2 separate regions of the Homo sapiens genome follow, and region 1 is linked to region 2. Evidence: fine-mapped expression QTL. A gene starts in region 2. The other region holds a variant in brackets. All regions are shown on one strand. Distances are from middle to middle. Region 1 overlaps SYTL3 (synaptotagmin like 3). Region 2 holds the start of SYTL3 (synaptotagmin like 3).

Evidence for each region. PIP is the estimated chance that this variant, and not a neighbour inherited with it, causes the effect.
Region 1: its variant is fine-mapped to the expression of SYTL3 in whole blood (INTERVAL, PIP above 0.99).

The regions. Positions count from the first base shown.
Region 1 is chr6:158,711,880-158,720,212 of GRCh38, forward strand. SYTL3 (synaptotagmin like 3) reads left to right here. Exons shown (of 18, transcript NM_001242394.2): 9 at 1,921-1,999; 10 at 6,208-6,332. Among named protein-coding and RNA genes, the nearest start is that of MIR3918, 49 kb to the right of the region's middle. RefSeq lists enhancers at 4,201-4,290, 8,183-8,333. The variant G/A (reference allele first, on the strand shown) is at 4,895.
Region 2 is chr6:158,645,130-158,653,462 of GRCh38, forward strand. SYTL3 (synaptotagmin like 3) reads left to right here and starts at 4,925. Exons shown (of 18, transcript NM_001242394.2): 1 at 4,925-4,949; 2 at 6,624-6,713.

The DNA.
Region 1 (8,333 bases), 67 kb after region 2:
GGTGGATTTTAGCTGTCTTCTTTACTGCAACCTGTTTTATCAGCAAGGTCTTTATGACCTGTATATTGGGCTGACCTCCCATCTCATCCTGTGACTTAGAATGCCTTAACCATCTGGGAATGCAGCCCAGTAGGTCTCGGCCTCATTTTACCCAGCTCCTATTCAAGATGGAGTTGCTGTGGTTCACATACCTCTGACAATGTAACTCTCAGTTCAAAGCTGAAAGCCTCAGGACCCAGGGAGCCTCTGGTCTAAGTCCTGGAGTCCAATGGCCAATCAGCCTGGGTTCTGATGTCCAAGGCAGCAGAAGAAAAGTCTGTTCCAGCTCTCAGAGACCAATTCATTTGCTGTATTTGTTCTCCTTGGGCCCCTGGTTGAGTGGGTGGTGCCTGCCAATATTGAGGGCAGATCTTTCTAACCGAATCCACTCAGACTCACACACTAATCTCCTCTGGAAACACCCTCACAGACACACCCAGAATAATGCCTTACCAGGCTTCTAGGTATTCCTGAAGCCAATCAAGTGGATGCCTACAATTAAGGTGTCATTAATTAAGTCCACGAGTCCACCCCTTGTCAACCTGTACCCATAGGCTCTCCTTAAGTCATACTTAATTTAATAAAGGCAGTAACAAAGTAATAGGTCCCCCTAACATGATGCAACTATCCCATAATTGTGATTTTGGGGATTTTAGATGTTAGGGATTTGGACTTCAGGGATTTTAATCTTTAGGGATTTAGACTTTAGGGATTTTGATCTTTCATCGTTTAGGATTATGGCATTTGAGACTGTGTCTTTGAGATTATGATCCAAACCCAAAAATATATAATGCTGATAAGAGAGAAGAATCACATACATTCTTTTTCTTTTCTTTCTTTCTTTTTTTTTTTTTTTTTGAGACAGAGTCTCGCTCTATTGCCCAGGCTGGAGACCAGTGGCGTGATCTCGACTCATTGCAAGCTCCGCCTCCCGGGTTCACACCATTCTCCTGCCTCAGCCTCCCAAGTAGCTGGGATTACAGGTGCCCGCCACCTTGCCCAGCTAATTTTTTTTTGTATTTTTAGTAGAGACGGGGTTTCACGTGTTAGCCAGGATGGTCTCGATCTCCTGACCTCGTGATCCGCCCGCCTCGGGCTCCCAAAGTGCTGGGATTACAGGCGTGAGCCACCGCGCCTGGCCTCTTTTTCAGTTTCAAACTGAGACTGGGGTGACCTTCAAAATCCTGCTCTACTTTCTCCTGGAAATTTCAAATTCTCCAGAGTCGTTCCAGTACCTACGTGCTCATGATGTATTTATTGGACAGATGGATGATTGGATGGGTGGTAATGTAAGATGGATGGATGTTTGGTGGCTAGATGGGTGGATGGATGGATGAATGAATGAGACTTGGATAAGGAAGTGAACTCCTTTCTGTTGTTTTATCTTTTTTTTCTTCTGCTTTGGGAAGTGGAGCCCCTCAGCTCTTGCCTGGTCACCTTGTGGCTTTTACCATCCTCATCCCCTGTGCCACCCACATCCTGCCACTTCTGCATGGAGTTGGGGTGGGGCCATTGGAGAAAAGAGGTTAAACAAGCAGTAATTTACTTGAGTACAGTCTTTGAGCCAATGAAATGCCAGTCATCATTTCCCAGGGGTACTTGTCATCTTGTCAACAACCCGCTGATAATGCTCCTTCAATGTGAATAGCAAAAGTAGGGAGAGACGCTGAATGAAGAAGATGCCTACCCCTCAGGAAGACTGCTGTCCGCCTCCAGGCCTGCATGCACACACCCATGCCCACCTGCACCCCCAGCACCACGCCCACACTCACTCGCACACACCCACATGCCAGTGTTTTGGGGTTGGCAGCCTGGACACTGCTGAGGCAAACACAAGTCATCAAGCATAATTCTCATTCTCTCCTTCTGTCTCTGTTTTAGTTACAGGAATTTGGTCAGTTTAGAGGATTTAATAAGTCCGTGGAAAATTTGTTTCTGTCTCTTGCTACCCACGTGAAAAGTAAGTGCATGCTTCATGATGTGTTTTCCCACTACCTTCCAGGCCAGCCGAGCCCACTGGCCAGGGCCTGGCCGGTGACCTCGGTTGACACTGTCCCTCAGGCCACTCACTTTGTCTCTGGACCCTGGGGAAAGCCACAGCACCTGGCCCTTCATCTCTTTCCCAACAAAGCAGGCCTCTGGTTCCTCATAGGAAGAGAAATGGTGGCTCAGACCTGTAATCCAAGCACTTTGGGAGGCCAAGGTGGGTGGATCACTTGAGGTCAGGAGTTCGAGACCATCTGGCCAACATGGTGAAACCCTGTCTCCACTAAAAATACAAAAATTAGCCAGGCATGGTGGTGGGTGCCTGTAATCCCAGCTACTGGGGAAGCTGAGGCAGGAGAATCACTTGAACCCAGGAGGCGGAGGTTGCAGTGAGCCAAGATCACGCCACTGGACTCCAGCCTGAGCAACAGAGCAAGACTCCGTCTCAAAAAAGAAAAAGAAAAAAAAAAAAAGATGCAATTTCAGGGAATCTAAAACCAGAACCTTTCAGGCCAGTAGGGCCCAATTATCTATCTATTGTCTGCATGGAATTACTTGCCTTTCTCCTCTCCTCCTTGGTAAATGTATTTTCTTCAGTTAGCAGTAATCCTGTGATTTGCAGATGCATGTAACCTAGAACCACCTCCACTTGCAATCTTGTGTCTTTCAATGTTCTTTCTGCTCAGATACTTTTTTCTCTGTTTATCTTAAAATTCAAGTCCCAGAGGACAGACTCCTTTTCATGCCTCCTAAGATGCCCAGGGCTGGTCAGGTGTTTAGAAAATGTCCTTAGTGTGCTCAAGGGTCCTTAGGCATGGATTTCTCTTTCACTGTGTTTCTGCTCGGCTTCTCTTCATCATCCCCTTTTCTGTAGTTGCATGCGGATGGTCTCAGTGCTGCACTTGGCTCTGAGACAGTCTCTTTATGTGACTTTAATTAGTTGTCCGTATTCCTCATGAGCCCTGTGTCAGCTGTCACACGATGACAATGGACATCAAAGCACTGCTCTTCAGATGAGCAGAAACAGTCGTCTCATGCAATGGTCTGTTCCTTTCTTAGGGAGGAAGCAGCTGAATTTCATGGGCCTGTTTGCTAAGAGCGTTTGGTGGCTTAAAAATCACTGTTTCCATCCTGCTGGGCTCTCTGACAGTAACCCCTGCTCTGTGCCCCTTGGCCTGGAACGTGTTTTCCAGCTGTCCCGGCTGCCTCTTCTCTTGTTCTCTTGTGGGTGCTATTTTCCCACCCACCCCCTTGTATTTGTCATGTATGGGTGGGTGCTAGTTCACCTTCCCTGTATGTCTTTCTAGGTGCACAGCCCTTCTCCAAATCTATGTGGCTTCTGTGAATTGTCTTCCACCACTGCCACTATAGAATCAGTGCCTTGGAGTTAGCCCCAACCCTGTCATCCCCCAGCCACCGAAATCCAGAGAGGTGGGACACACACGTCAGCACACATGCACCTTCCTGGATGCTCCCAGCCCTGCACACAGGTTCATTGGATATGCTCACAGCTGTCAGGTGGCCACCCCAGAGCCTGGCCTGTGTACCTGCTCACACACTTGAGCACTTGAGGCTAACCAGTGTAATACCCAGGTGGACAACTAGAGCTAGTCCCTGGGCGAGGTGTGGGGGAATTCACAAGAGCAAAACAGCAAGCATCCCTTCTCAGATATGGAAAGCAGACTGAAACCGCATCACACACACACACACACGCACGCACCCAGCACCCCCCATACCCCCCCACCACCCCCACCCCCTGCCCAGAGGCAGAGATAGAAAACCCCAGCTTTCTGGCTGCTGGGAGTGGTGCTTGGCCTCTGACCTTTCCCGAGTGCTTCCCCTGTTTCTGCAGGAACAGGACACGTGACCACACACACGCCCTTCTCCCGTCTCTGCCACAGGACACTTAGCGTCCTGTAGGCGCTGACTCCTATTTCTTTGGATTTTGAGCTCCTCTTCTCGTGCTCCTATTATCTTATTGGCTGCCTGTTTCCCCACGGAAGTGGGTGCAGAGGGAAGCCTCATTCTGAGGGGAGGAAGATTGGCACCTGAGGTCCTCGGGGAGGGACTGTAGAGGGCCCCAGACTCTTCACTGGCCCAGGTGCTGAAGGGTGGCTTTGCCCCTGAGGGGTTTTGAAAGGTGACCCAGAATTACAACCTCTAGCTGCTGATGCTGCCCAATGAAGTCAAACCAGCGGGAGGAAATGAGTGGCTGCAGCTCTGTCTATTATCAGTACGTTTCTAGAAGATGTCAGCACTGTAGTCCCCCTTAGAAAGGGGAAGAGGAAATGAGAAAACTGGTCTTGCCCAGAAGCAATCTGCATTTCTTTCTCTTCCTTATCCTTTGTCCCCTAATAATACTGACCTATAAGCCTATTTCTTAGAGCCCAAATTTCTCAAGAAGGCTTGTCCTCTCCCCTCATCTGTGAACTTTCAATGGCCCAAATAGGCCCAGGCTTTGGGATGGGCACTAAGAGATTGCTGGGGGACCAGTTCCTCCTAAGGGCTTAGAAATTAGAGCCCCTCACAGCCTCACAGTCCAGACTGAGATGGACCATCTGAGCGTGTCCTTTACTTTGTCCACTTTGAGGACCTGGTGCGTACTAGTGCCTTACGAGCTGCTGGCCTTAGAAAGATCCCCCAGTGTTTCTTGATGGTCACCTTGAGGACATGGGGATGGCATTGCTATCAGAGGAGGCTAGGAGGCATCCTGGTGGAAAAGCTGGACACCCCAGCCGTTCCCTCTTTAGATGAAAGAGATACTGCAAGACTCATTCTTGGGCAGTGTAGGCAGGAGAGAACGAATACATAGTGAGAGGATAGAGGATTCATGCAATAACATCCCAAGGAGGTGGATCCAAAGCCAGCC[G/A]GGGGGTCAAGAGCCACAGTGTCCATTGCAGTGGCCTCTAACCACGTGTTGCTCTTGAGCCCCTGAAATAGGGCTGCAAGATGCACTACCAAAGTGAACACACTGGGTTTCAGAGACTTGGAATCCAACAAAAGTAAAATATTTCATGGATAACTTTAATGTTGATGACATTTTTTAATATTTTGGATATATTGTGTTAAACTAAATATAGAATTAAAATTAATTTGGCCAGGCATGGTGGCTTAAGCCTGTAATCCCAGCACTTTGGGAGGCCAAGGTGGGTGGATCTCTTGAGCTCAGGAGTTCGAGACCAGCCTGGCCAACATGGTGAAACCATGGCTAATACAAAAATTAGCCGGGCGTGGTGACACACACCTGTAATCCCAGCTACTTGGGAGGCTGAGGCATGAGAATCACTTGAACCCAGGAGGCGGAGGTTGCAGTGAGCCAAGATCACATCATTGCACTCCATTCTGGGCAACAGAGTGAGACTCTATTTCAAAAATAAATAAGTAAATAGAGTTAATTTTACCTGTTTTTTTTTTTTTAACTTTTTAAATATGGCTACTATAAAATTTAAAATTGTATGTGTGACTTGCATTGTCTCTCTGCCGGACAGCACAGCTCTAGAGACAGTTTTAAGGTCCCCGTTTGGAGGAGTGGGGTTCTCAAGGGAAAATGAAACCATCTTCAGAGGATGAAACTATCTTCAAGGTGGTTCTCTCACTTCTGTATGTGGCTTCCTTCCTTCAAACTTTCTTCATCTTTACTCTAGACCACTATTACACTGTAAAAATGAAACAAATTTGTTTACAGTCATCTTTCCAGGGTTTGTTTATTATAATTGTTATGAGGACACCCCAAATCTTATTTTTACCTCGCTTCAAAAAGTCACAAGAAATGGTGTTAAGTTGTAACATCTTTGTAAGGAACCCCTAGAAAGCCGGCTTGTTTGGTAGGCTGCCGTCTTCGTGTTTGGATGAGTGCACACACATATGTGTGACCTGGAACGCAGAGGAGCTTGGGTGGATGATTTCCCTTCACCTCTCACCCTGACCATGGCCTGGGTGGCCACAGCGGGACCTTGAAGGAAGCCAGCCCTCTCCTGCCCTGACCCAGCACACTGTCTGCTCACCTTCCCAACACCTCTGCACTTGGTGGGGGAATGTGCCGCCCTTGCTCCTCCGTGCACTTTGCCCTCTTAAGACCTTGGGACCCACTGTCTGTGGGTTCAGTGAACCCCAGAAGAGGCTCCCACAAGTCTCAGCAAAGCTGCTTGTTCCCACCCATCAACCCTTGTGTTTGCCTTTTAGAGCTCTCCAAATCCCAGAATGATATGACTTCTGAGAAGCATCTTCTCGCCACGGGCCCCAGGCAGTGTGTGGGACAGACAGAGAGACGGAGCCAGTCTGACACTGCGGTCAACGTCACCACCAGGGTACCCTGAGCCCCACAAGGCCTCCACGCTGATCACCTTCATGTTGTCTTCCAGAACTTTCTAGCCTGCCTTCTCTGTAGATTTATGTTTTCTTTGGTTTTATAGAAAAACAGTAAGCCATCAGAAAAACATAATTACCAGTCAGTGCCTCTATTTGGGCAGGGCTGGCCCAAGGCAGGTCAGGATTGAAGGTCAGTCTGGAAAACTGTTCAGCACAAGGAAAGGCTTCCACCTAATCACAAGCCCCTGAGGCTCCTCTGTGTCCACAGAGCTCCCTGCTGGCTTCAAGCCTGCGCCAAAGCCCAAGGGCTTCCTGCAGGGCCCACACCTGCCGGGTTAGCCCTGGAGTCTGCAAGACCAGCAGCCTTTGGTTAAAATCTATCCTGACCTCTGATGGAAACTATTGAAAACGTAAAGGCGCGAGCAAGCCTGTGGGGGCGCTCTTCCCCCGCTGTCCACACCACAAGTGAGAGCTCCCTTAGTAAAGGCTTCTAGGGAAATAATTATTCCACCTTCCCACCAGGACTAACCCAGCCTGGAGTGAACGCTTCGGGTATGAGAGAGAGCCAACCTTAGAATGGGAAAGCCCGCATTCTAGTTCAGCTGAGGTGCCTTGGCTGGGCAGGTGCCACCAGCTGTTGCTTGCAGTGTTGATGTGACTGCCCTGGTAGGCTGGACAGAACTGGTGTCCCTTCTCTGCTGCTGTGGACTCCACTCAGGCTGTCCCCAGACAGACTGTCCTTTAGGCGAGGGTGTGAGGTCAGCCCCCCTCTCCTGCTGGAACTTGCACACAGCCTCTTGAGAGTTCACGTCCTGCCTCCCGCTCCAGCCCAGTGCGCCCCTCTGTAAAATGAAGATGATAATACCTGTTCTGCGCACAGCACAAGGTTTTGTAAACATCTAATGAGATAATGTAGTATCTTGATTTGCTATCTAAGTCATCTAAATATTTTATCTAAATTGCCAGCATTGACTATGATGTGCTGGACTCTGTACTAATAGCTTAACTAGGCTATCTCATTTTATCTTCATAACCACCATCTAGGGTAGGTATTGCATGCAGCCTCATTTTACATGTAAAGAAATGGAGGTTTAGATTAAGTCACCTGCCAAAGGTTGTATAGCCAAAAGAGGACTGAACTCTGAGGCAGTGATTCCCAGCTCTTATGAGTATAGGGGGTCACTGGGGCTCTTAAAATGCAGATTCCAAATCAGTAGCTGCGGGGTGGACGTGAGATGAGGAACCGCAGATGCATTTTTGGTGAACTCCTGGGATCTGGCGAAGTCTATGCTGTGAAGTTCTCAGACCACACTTCAGGAGCGAGGTGTCTAGACAGTTTGAAATGTATTTGGCAGGTGTTTGAAATTCTATAACACAAGTGTCAGCTCCTGTCAGCTTCCCGGGGTCTACAGAAGCTCCCTCCGAACTCCCTCCGGGGATCACTCCTTCTAGTGAAACAGGTGGAGGGGAGGGTTAGCAACCATATGAAGCCCTGTGTGCCACACGTGGTGGCAGCATTGCTTCTTACCTACTTCATCACATTTAATTCTCACAAAAATACCGTGGTAGACATTGTTACTCCCATGATAAAGATCGGCCGAGCCTGGTGGCTCATGCCGGTAATCCCAGCACTTTGGGAAGCCGAGGTGGGCAGATTGCTTGAGCCAAGGAGTTGGAGACCAGCCTGGGCAACATGAGAAAACCCTGTCTCTACAAAAATACAAATATTAGCCGGGTGTGGTGTCACATGTCTATAATCCCAGCTACTAGGGAGACTGAGGTGGGAGGATCGCTTGAGCCCAGGAGGTCAAGGCTGCAGTGAGCCATGGTTGCACCACTGCACTCCAGCCTGGGTGACAGAGTGAAACCCTGTCTCAAATAATAATAAATTAAAAATTTTAAAAATTGGCCGGGCACCATGGCTCATGCCTGTAATCCCAGCACTCTGGGAGGCTGAAGTGGGTGGATCACCTGAGTTCAGGCGTTCGAGAGCAGCCTAG
Region 2 (8,333 bases):
AGGCAGTGCGCCCGGTGAGACGTTGTTGCAGTTCCCTTGGGGACTGGGATTGGCATGCTTTAGCTATCTGAACGAAACTTCCCTTTGGGGAGTTAAGTTTTCCAGGTAAATGAGAATTTTTCCTTTAAGCACCATTAAAAAAAAACATTTTGGGTGGAAAATTTTGTAAAATGTGGCACACTTCCTGACTACCTTAACCATAGTGAACTAGACAGACTTTATTTGTATGTGGGTTCTTTATGGAAATTAGGAATTGCACTGGGCTCTGGTAAACTGCCCTCCACGGAAAGCTGGGGCATATGCATCTATTGGCAGGTATTCTGAGGCTCCGAGTTTTGATTTTGGCGTTTGCTTTTTCTGGTTTCGTCATGCACTTGAATTCAGGTTGCTGGAACCCACTTCCCATTCCCCAAGAAAGAGCTGACTGCAAGGGTCCCAGGGATTTGGTAGACCTAAACTTCAAATCCCACATCTAATCCATCAACAACCCTTGTTATTTCTACCCCATATGCTCGGGACCCCAGTTAAAGATTGATATCTCTCATCTGGATTATGACCATCGGACTGTAACCTGGTCGGTCTATCAGGGTCTTATTAGAGCCCTTCAAGAGGAACCTAACCCAACGACTCCTCCCTCCCCTCACCCATTCTGCCCTGCCATAAGTCAATAGTTACTAAGTTGTCAGACTATAGACTAATCTTAGTGATCTTTGGATGACTAAACTTTTAACATATCTTAGCTCAAAATCTCCTACAGAGAGCCATTCTGTGACCACGGCATCTAAGGTAGCCGACCTCCTCATCCTCCACCCCTGCATCCTGTACATTTTCCTCATAGCACTTCTCTCAGTTTGCAAGAACGTATTTATGGTTGCTTGTTGATGGTGTGTCTCCATTTAGAAACTAAGTACCATGCAGGAAGGATCTGTTTTATTCACTAATGTATCCCCTTCCTTCCACATTGTGCCTGGCACATAATAGCTACACAATTAACATTTATTTATTTATTTATTTAGAGACAGGGTGTCATTCTGTTGCCCGGGCTGGAATGCAGTGGTGTGATCGGAGATTTTGAGCTAAGATGTGTTGAAGTTTAGTCATCCAAAGACCACTAAGAGCTTGAACTCCTGGGCTCAAGGTATTCTCCTGCCTTAGCCTCCTGAGCAGCTGGGATTCCAGGCACTAGCCACCACACCCACCTATTTTTTTAATATGTCTTTTGTAGAGATGGGATCTCACTGTGTTGCCCAGGCAGGTCTCAAACTCCCGGGCTTAAGGGATCCTCCAGCCTCAGCCTCCCAAAGTGCTGGGATTATAGCTGTGAGCCACCATGCCCGGCCTAAAATTTATTGCATGAATCATTTCCCTCATGGGTGTTAGCTTTGCCTCAGACCCAAATGGAGAGAACTGGGGAGTGGAGGAAGATGCAACTACCTGCCTCCTTGAGGGAAACAGGGCTGGCGAGAGGAGGGCAGAGCCCTGACTGACACAAGGCTGCTTGGCCCTGGGTGTTCGGCCTGAGCGAGGAGACTTGCTGGGCAGGCTGGTTGCTTTACCACACCTGGTCTTCCTCTCCTTGGATTCTGAACTTTATCTACCTTTTGAATTCCTTTCTTATTACCTGGCTTCAACTCCCCTGTCCTGGTGTTTCAGTCGTGCGCCTCAGTCCACATGTGATTCTGATGCTGACATTGCTTTGCCTGCCTGCCCTTCTCAGTATCACCTGAGATCTCGTTTTGGATGTTCTCTGCCTACCTGGTTCCAAGCTCTTGGCCCCACCACGATCCTGAGCCAATCAGGAGCCTCTGAAATCTTTTTTCTTCTGCTACTTTGTTGTGGACCTGGAGTTCAGTAGCTAAGTGTCACAGAATTATGTGCAAAGCAAGAGTAAACCGGTTCTGAGCAAACACCTGCAATGGAAGAACATGACACTTGGGACAGCCTTTTCAATTTTCCCCACAACCTTTTAGGAACTTCCTAATTTAAATCAATTTCCTGAATGTCTGCTAGGATGGTGCATAATTAATGCATGGATCTTGTTATAACTGCGGATCACCAGCATGCACATAAATCAACAGAAAACATGCAAATGTGCATTTTAAAAATGCTTACATGATTTTAGCTTTTATACATTGGGTACCACTCTCCAATTTTAACTATTAAAGAACATTTGTTAAATGATCGCGATGTATGACATTTTGAGGCTGCCAGTAAACGGATGAGCTGGTCTGTTTATCTTCACAACTATCTGTTCACTTGTTCAATACACATATATGGAGCACTCCCTTTGTGTCAGGCTCTGAGCTGGGGGTTGAGGCTACAAAGTTGACTAAAACATGGCCTTTATGGAATTTTTTCTTTTAAACGGATATATCTGTAAATAGGAGGGTTTGAATTCTCTAGGCTTATGTGATGTTGTAGTGCTTGGAAAAATGCAGTGATGTGGTATTATATTCTGCCCAACTGATGTAGTCTGTAGGGCTAAGGAATTTAAAATCGTTAAGACATTTGGCAGTTCACCAGATGCCATTTCCAGCACCTTCCATCTGCCACGAATGGATGTCCATCAGAAGCATTGGAGCTCAGACACCTTTACTCGTAACTGCTCATGAATCTTTGGCATTCTGCCATATTTTAGAATAATGTTTAGTTTCTATGCAGTAAGTCAGTGGAGTGAATCTTAGGTTTGTTTTTCAATTTGGAGGTTAGTGATAGGTTGGCAGGTTTGCGTGCAATCACCTTTCTTTTCTGGAGTCAAATTTCTTGAATACAGACTGTGGGACTGGAGCTGCCAATACCTTTATTTAGCAAGTGTGGGCCTAATAATCATAGCAATCAATGAACTGTCACATCAATAAATAACATCAATAATATCCAGCAGTGGCTGGGCGCAGTGGCTCACACCTGTAATCCCAGTACTTTGGGAGGCTGAGGTGGGCAGATCACCAGAGGTCGGGAGTTCGAGACTAGCCTGACCAACATGGAGAAACCCTATCTCTACTAAAAATACAAAATTAGCCAGGCATGGTGGTGCATGCTTGTAATCCCAGCTACTTGGGAGGCTGAGGCAGGAGAATCGCTTGAACCCAGGAGGCAGAGATTGCGGTGAGCTGAGATAGCGCCATTGCACTCCAGCCCGGGTAACAAGAGCGAAACTCCGTCTCAAAAAATAAAATAATAGGCCAGGCGTGGTGGCTCACGCCTGTAATCCCAGCACTTTGGGAGGCCGAGGCGGGCGGATCACGAGGTCAGGAGATCGAGACCATCCTGGCTAACACGGTGAAACCCTGTATCTACTAAAAATACAAAAAATTAGCTGGGTGCGGTGGTGGGCGCCTGTAGTCCCAGCTACTCGGGAGGCTGAGGCAGGAGAATAGCGTGAACCCGGGAGGCGGAGCTTGCAGTGAGCCGAGATCGCGCCACTGCAGTCCCGACTGGGTGAAAGAGCGAGACTCGGTCTCAAAAAAAAAAAAAAAAAAATAATAATAATAATAATATCCAGCAGTGTTGTTCTGCTATAATCTGCAGCCCTTCATAGTCCAAATGCCATCCTGTGGATTTTCCATTTTTTCCTTTCTTCCCCTGTGCCAAGAAGTGTGTTACTATGAGATCATGCTGAGTCAAAATAATAGTAACAGAAGAAGACGATGAGGACGAGGGTGCTGTTGAAACACTCATGGCTGAGGAATTTAATGTTGTAAAGGAAAAGAAACTCTGGCTGACACATATCTAAAGTGAGAGTCCTGTGCTGAGAAAAGCTAAAGAGATTAGCTAAGAAGTGCCTATATTTAGATCTGCTATTGAGCTGGGAAGCGGAGGCACAGTTGTGCTGAAATACCTCTGTACCCCATGAAACAGTGGCTGCTCTGAGCTTCTTGGGTCCCTCTTCCTCTCAATCCTGGTGACTGCAGCCCCTTCCCTGGGACCTCATCCCCAAGATCCAATAACTAAAGGATAACTCGTGGTATAGCAGGGCCTCCGCTGGCATTTGTTCCAATGGGTAAATATTCATGCTATAGTAGTTATTAAATAGTTTGGTGCTCAGTTCTGTGTTTGTGAAAACACTACACACTACATCAGCAGAATAGGCTAGGTTAGCTGCAGAAACAAATGGCCCTACACTCTCAGTGGTTGATGACAGCAAACATTTATTTGCCACTCACACTCCATGACCATCAAGGATCTTCCATGGCTCTGCTTCATGTCTTCTCCATGCTGAGACGAGGTTGCTGGAGCAGCCTGTGTCTGGAGTCATCAAGGGAAAGAGAAGGGAAAGAGAATGAATGGTGGCCCCAGTACTGGCTCGGTAGGTGCCAAGCCTACGTGGCACGTGGCACCTTTGCACACACTTCATTGTCTTATTGCTCTCCAGAGCAAGTCCTTGGCCATGCCTGAGTTAGCAGGGCAGGGACACTTCACGGTGCTGAGTAATACTACCTAGTACACGCACAGCATTTTGAAGGTTCCCCTTGGTGATTTCATTACAATCTTCATCGCTCTTGGCCTGGCTGTCCCCCTTTCTTGTAAATTATTCTTGAGTTAATAGCTGTTCTTTGAGATGTGGTTAGTCATTTACACTGAAGTCAATGTGAAACCCTTCACAAATGTGAGAACATTTGAATATTTGAAGGCTGTAGTCTCTGTAGGGAGTTTCCTTAGGAAGGGTGAAACATTTCACCAGCATCAGCCTGGTCTTTCCTCCAGCTAAAAATGTAAAATGTTGGCATAGAAGAGCTCCTTGATGTGGTTTTGGGGTGGCTTTGCTCCCTGGGTCCCTAGTGATGTGGGAGTAGCCACCGAGGCATGTAAGGCTGGCCACACAGGGTGCACTGCGTCAGCCTGTGCCCGACAGGAAGGGAAGAGAAATACGTCAGTTACTCTAACAAGAAGAATTGACTTCCTTCTCTGCAGAGCCGGCTCTGGTCTCTTCTCTTGAAGCAGATGCGAAGGTAGGATGAGAAGGCATGGCTGGCCGTTGCAGCAGGTCGTTTTAGGAGTGGGGGAGTGGGGTGGGTAGAGATTATAGTTATTGTAACTTTTCTTAAATTTATGACATTGAAAAGGTAGGAAACAAAACATAATAAATTAGATAAAAGATATCTTGTAATTTTATTGAATAACATACATTTAACATTTGAGATAATAATGATTTAAGTGATATGGTGGAAGTGACTTCAGAGTTAATTAAAAACCAAAACAAAACAGAAAAACACTATCCAAAAGCTATATGGTGTGATTTTTTTTTTTAAAGGGTAGAGTGTCATTTGCTTTCTTCTTTGGTTTGCAAATTCTTATACTTACAGTTTATTACTATTTTGCTCTCTCTGAATCGACTTTATTGTTTTGATCATCCGTAATTTCTCGTTTGGAGGTGGAACATAAATATCATTTTGGAATTATAAAAAAGTTAGCTAGGGTCTAATTTAAATTTCTTTTAATTAAGCTTCCTTAATCTCTAAATTGCTTGGTAAGAAAGAGACTATGAGAGGAAAGTGCACATTAGATATTAAAGATTTATTAAATTAGAATTGGGCTGGGTGCGGTGGCTCACGCCTGTAATCCCAGTACTTTGGGAGGCCAAGGTGGGTAGATCCCTTGAGATCAGGAATTTGAGACCAGCCTGGCCAACATGATGAAACCCCATCTCTAAAAAAAAAAAAAAAATACAAAAATTAGCTGGGTGTGGTGGCAGGCACCTGTAATCCCAGCTGCCCAGGAGGCTGAGGCACGAGAATCACTTGAACCTGGGAGGCGGAGGTGGCAGTGAGCCAAGATCCTGCCACTGCAATCCAGCCTGGGCAACAGAGTAAGACTCCGTCTCAAAAAAAGAAAAAAAGAAATTAGAATTGGTGTAGAAAAGATTATTTAGCCAAGATAGTTGGAGATTCTAACTTAGCTGCTTTGCCTAAATGAAGCATAAGGTTTTGGAGTTAAACAGACCCAGTTTAGAGTGTGAGTTTAGGTAAGTTACTTAATCACTCCAAGACTCACTCTCCTCATCTGTAGAATGGGTACATTTACTTCATAATGTGGCAATAAGGATTAGTAGAGATAATGTATGCAAAGTACTTAAACTATCTGGTTCAGAGTAAGAGCTAAATAAATAGTAGCTGTTGGCACAACAGAAAGCATAACAACAATTGTGAGTAGTACCTAGAAGGATATAATAATATTAATTCTCGGCCGGGTGTGATGGCTCACGCCTGTCATCTCAGCACTTTGGGAGGCCTAGGCGGATGGATCATGAGGTCAAGAGATCGAGATCATCCTGGCCAACATGGTGAAACTCTACTAAAAAATACAAAAAAATTAGCTGGGTGTGGTGGCGGGCGCCTGTAGTCCCAGCTACTCAGGAGGCTGAGGCAGGGGAATTGCTTGAACCCGGGAGGTGGAGGTTGCAGTGAGCTGAGATCGCGCCACTGCACTCCAGCCTGGTGACAGAGCGAGACTCCATCTCAAATAAATAAATAAATAAATAAATAATAATATTAATTCTCATTTCTTTGCTCTTCCATACAAAGAGGTCAAGTTTAAAGTATGAATGCCATGGCTTCCTATTTCAGTCATGAATTCCTATTTCTGATTCTAAAGTAATATTTTTTGTTGTTTTTGGGTGGTAAAAGGCTCCCCGAATGAGAAAGAATACTCGGAATCAGCGGTGAATTGCAGTGATCTTTCAGAGAAAGCGCCTGTTCAACTTTGTCCTCTCTCAGGTAGGCTTCAAGTTTTATAGATTCAAGCCCACGTGTGAGTCTTCTAATGTTTTATTTATTTATTTATTTATTTTTATGTATTTTTATTTTTTTTTATTTATTTGAGATGGAGTCTCACTCTGTTGCCCAGGCTGGAGTGCAATGGCACGATCTCGGTTCACTGCAACCCCTGCCTCCCAGGTTCAAGTGATTCTCCTGCCTCAGCCTCCCCGGTAGCTAGGATTACAGGTGCCTGCCACCATGCCCAGATAATTTTTGTATTTTTAGTATAGATGAGGTTTCACCAGGTTGGCTAGGCTGGTCTCAAACTCCTGACCTCAGGTGATCCACCCACCTCGGCCTCCCAAAGTGTTGGGATTACAGGTGTGAGCCACCGAGCCCAGCCTGTTTATTTATTTACTTATTTTATTATTATTATTTTTTGAGACAGAGTCTCACTCTGTTGCCCAGGCTAGAGTGCAGTGGCTGCAATTTCAGCTCACTGCAAGCTCTGCCTCCCGGGTTAACACCATTCTCCTGCCTCAGCCTCCGAAGTAGCTGGGACTATAGGCACCTGCCGCCACACCTGGCTAATTTTTTTGTATTTTTAGTGGAGACAGGGTTTTAACATGTTGGCCAGGATGGTCTCCATCTCCTGACTTCATGATCCACCTGCCTCGTCCTCCCAAAGTGCTGGGATTACAAGCGTGAGCCACCACGCCCGGCCTTATTTATTTTTTTGAGACAGAGTCTCGCTCTGTCACCCAGGCTGGAGTGCAATGGCGCGATCTCAGCTCACTGCAACCTCCACCTCCCAGGTTCAAACAATTCTGTCTCAGCTTCCCGAGTAGCTGGGATTACAGGTGCCCACCACCATGCCCGGCTAATTTTTGTATTTTTAGTAAAGACAGGGTTTCACCATGTTGGCCAGGCTGGTCTCAAAACTCCTGACCTCGTGATCCACCCACCTCAGCTTCCCAAAGTGCTGGGATTACAGGCGTGAGCCACCGCACCCAGCCGAGTCTTCTAATGTGAAGTAGAGATATCTGAGGGACCTGAAACTTGTACAACTTGTGGAGACTTTGGGAAAACAAAGAGGGAACCAGGTACAGGGCATCTAGGGCCTTGGACAGGGCCGTGCAAATAAAGGATTCTGAAGTTGAGGTGTCATTCGCTTCCCAGAAAACCCACCTCTGAATGAGTAACAAGATAGACAGAAAATGTATAAACGCACATCTTCATTTCTGTGTCAGACTTTCTGATGGATATGCATGCGTGCTGTCTCATTGTTGCAAAAATGAGTCTTTTAAGCCTATGAATAGGGAACTGAGCTGAGAGCTGTTCTTTATTCATCACCTTCCTTTGTGGCTGTAATCAGCTTCCGTAAAGAATCTATGCAAGCAGGCCGGTCGCAGTGGCTCACACCTGTAATCCCAGCACTTTGGGAGGCCACGGTGGGCAGATCACCTGAGGTTGGGAGTTTGAGACCAGCCTGACCAACATGAAGAAACCCTGTCTCTACTAAAAATACAAAATTAGCGGAGGATGGTGGTGCATGCCTGTAATGTCAGCTACTCGGGAGGTTGAGGCAGGAGAATTTCATGAACCTGGGAGGCGGAGGTTGTGGTGAGCCAAGATCGC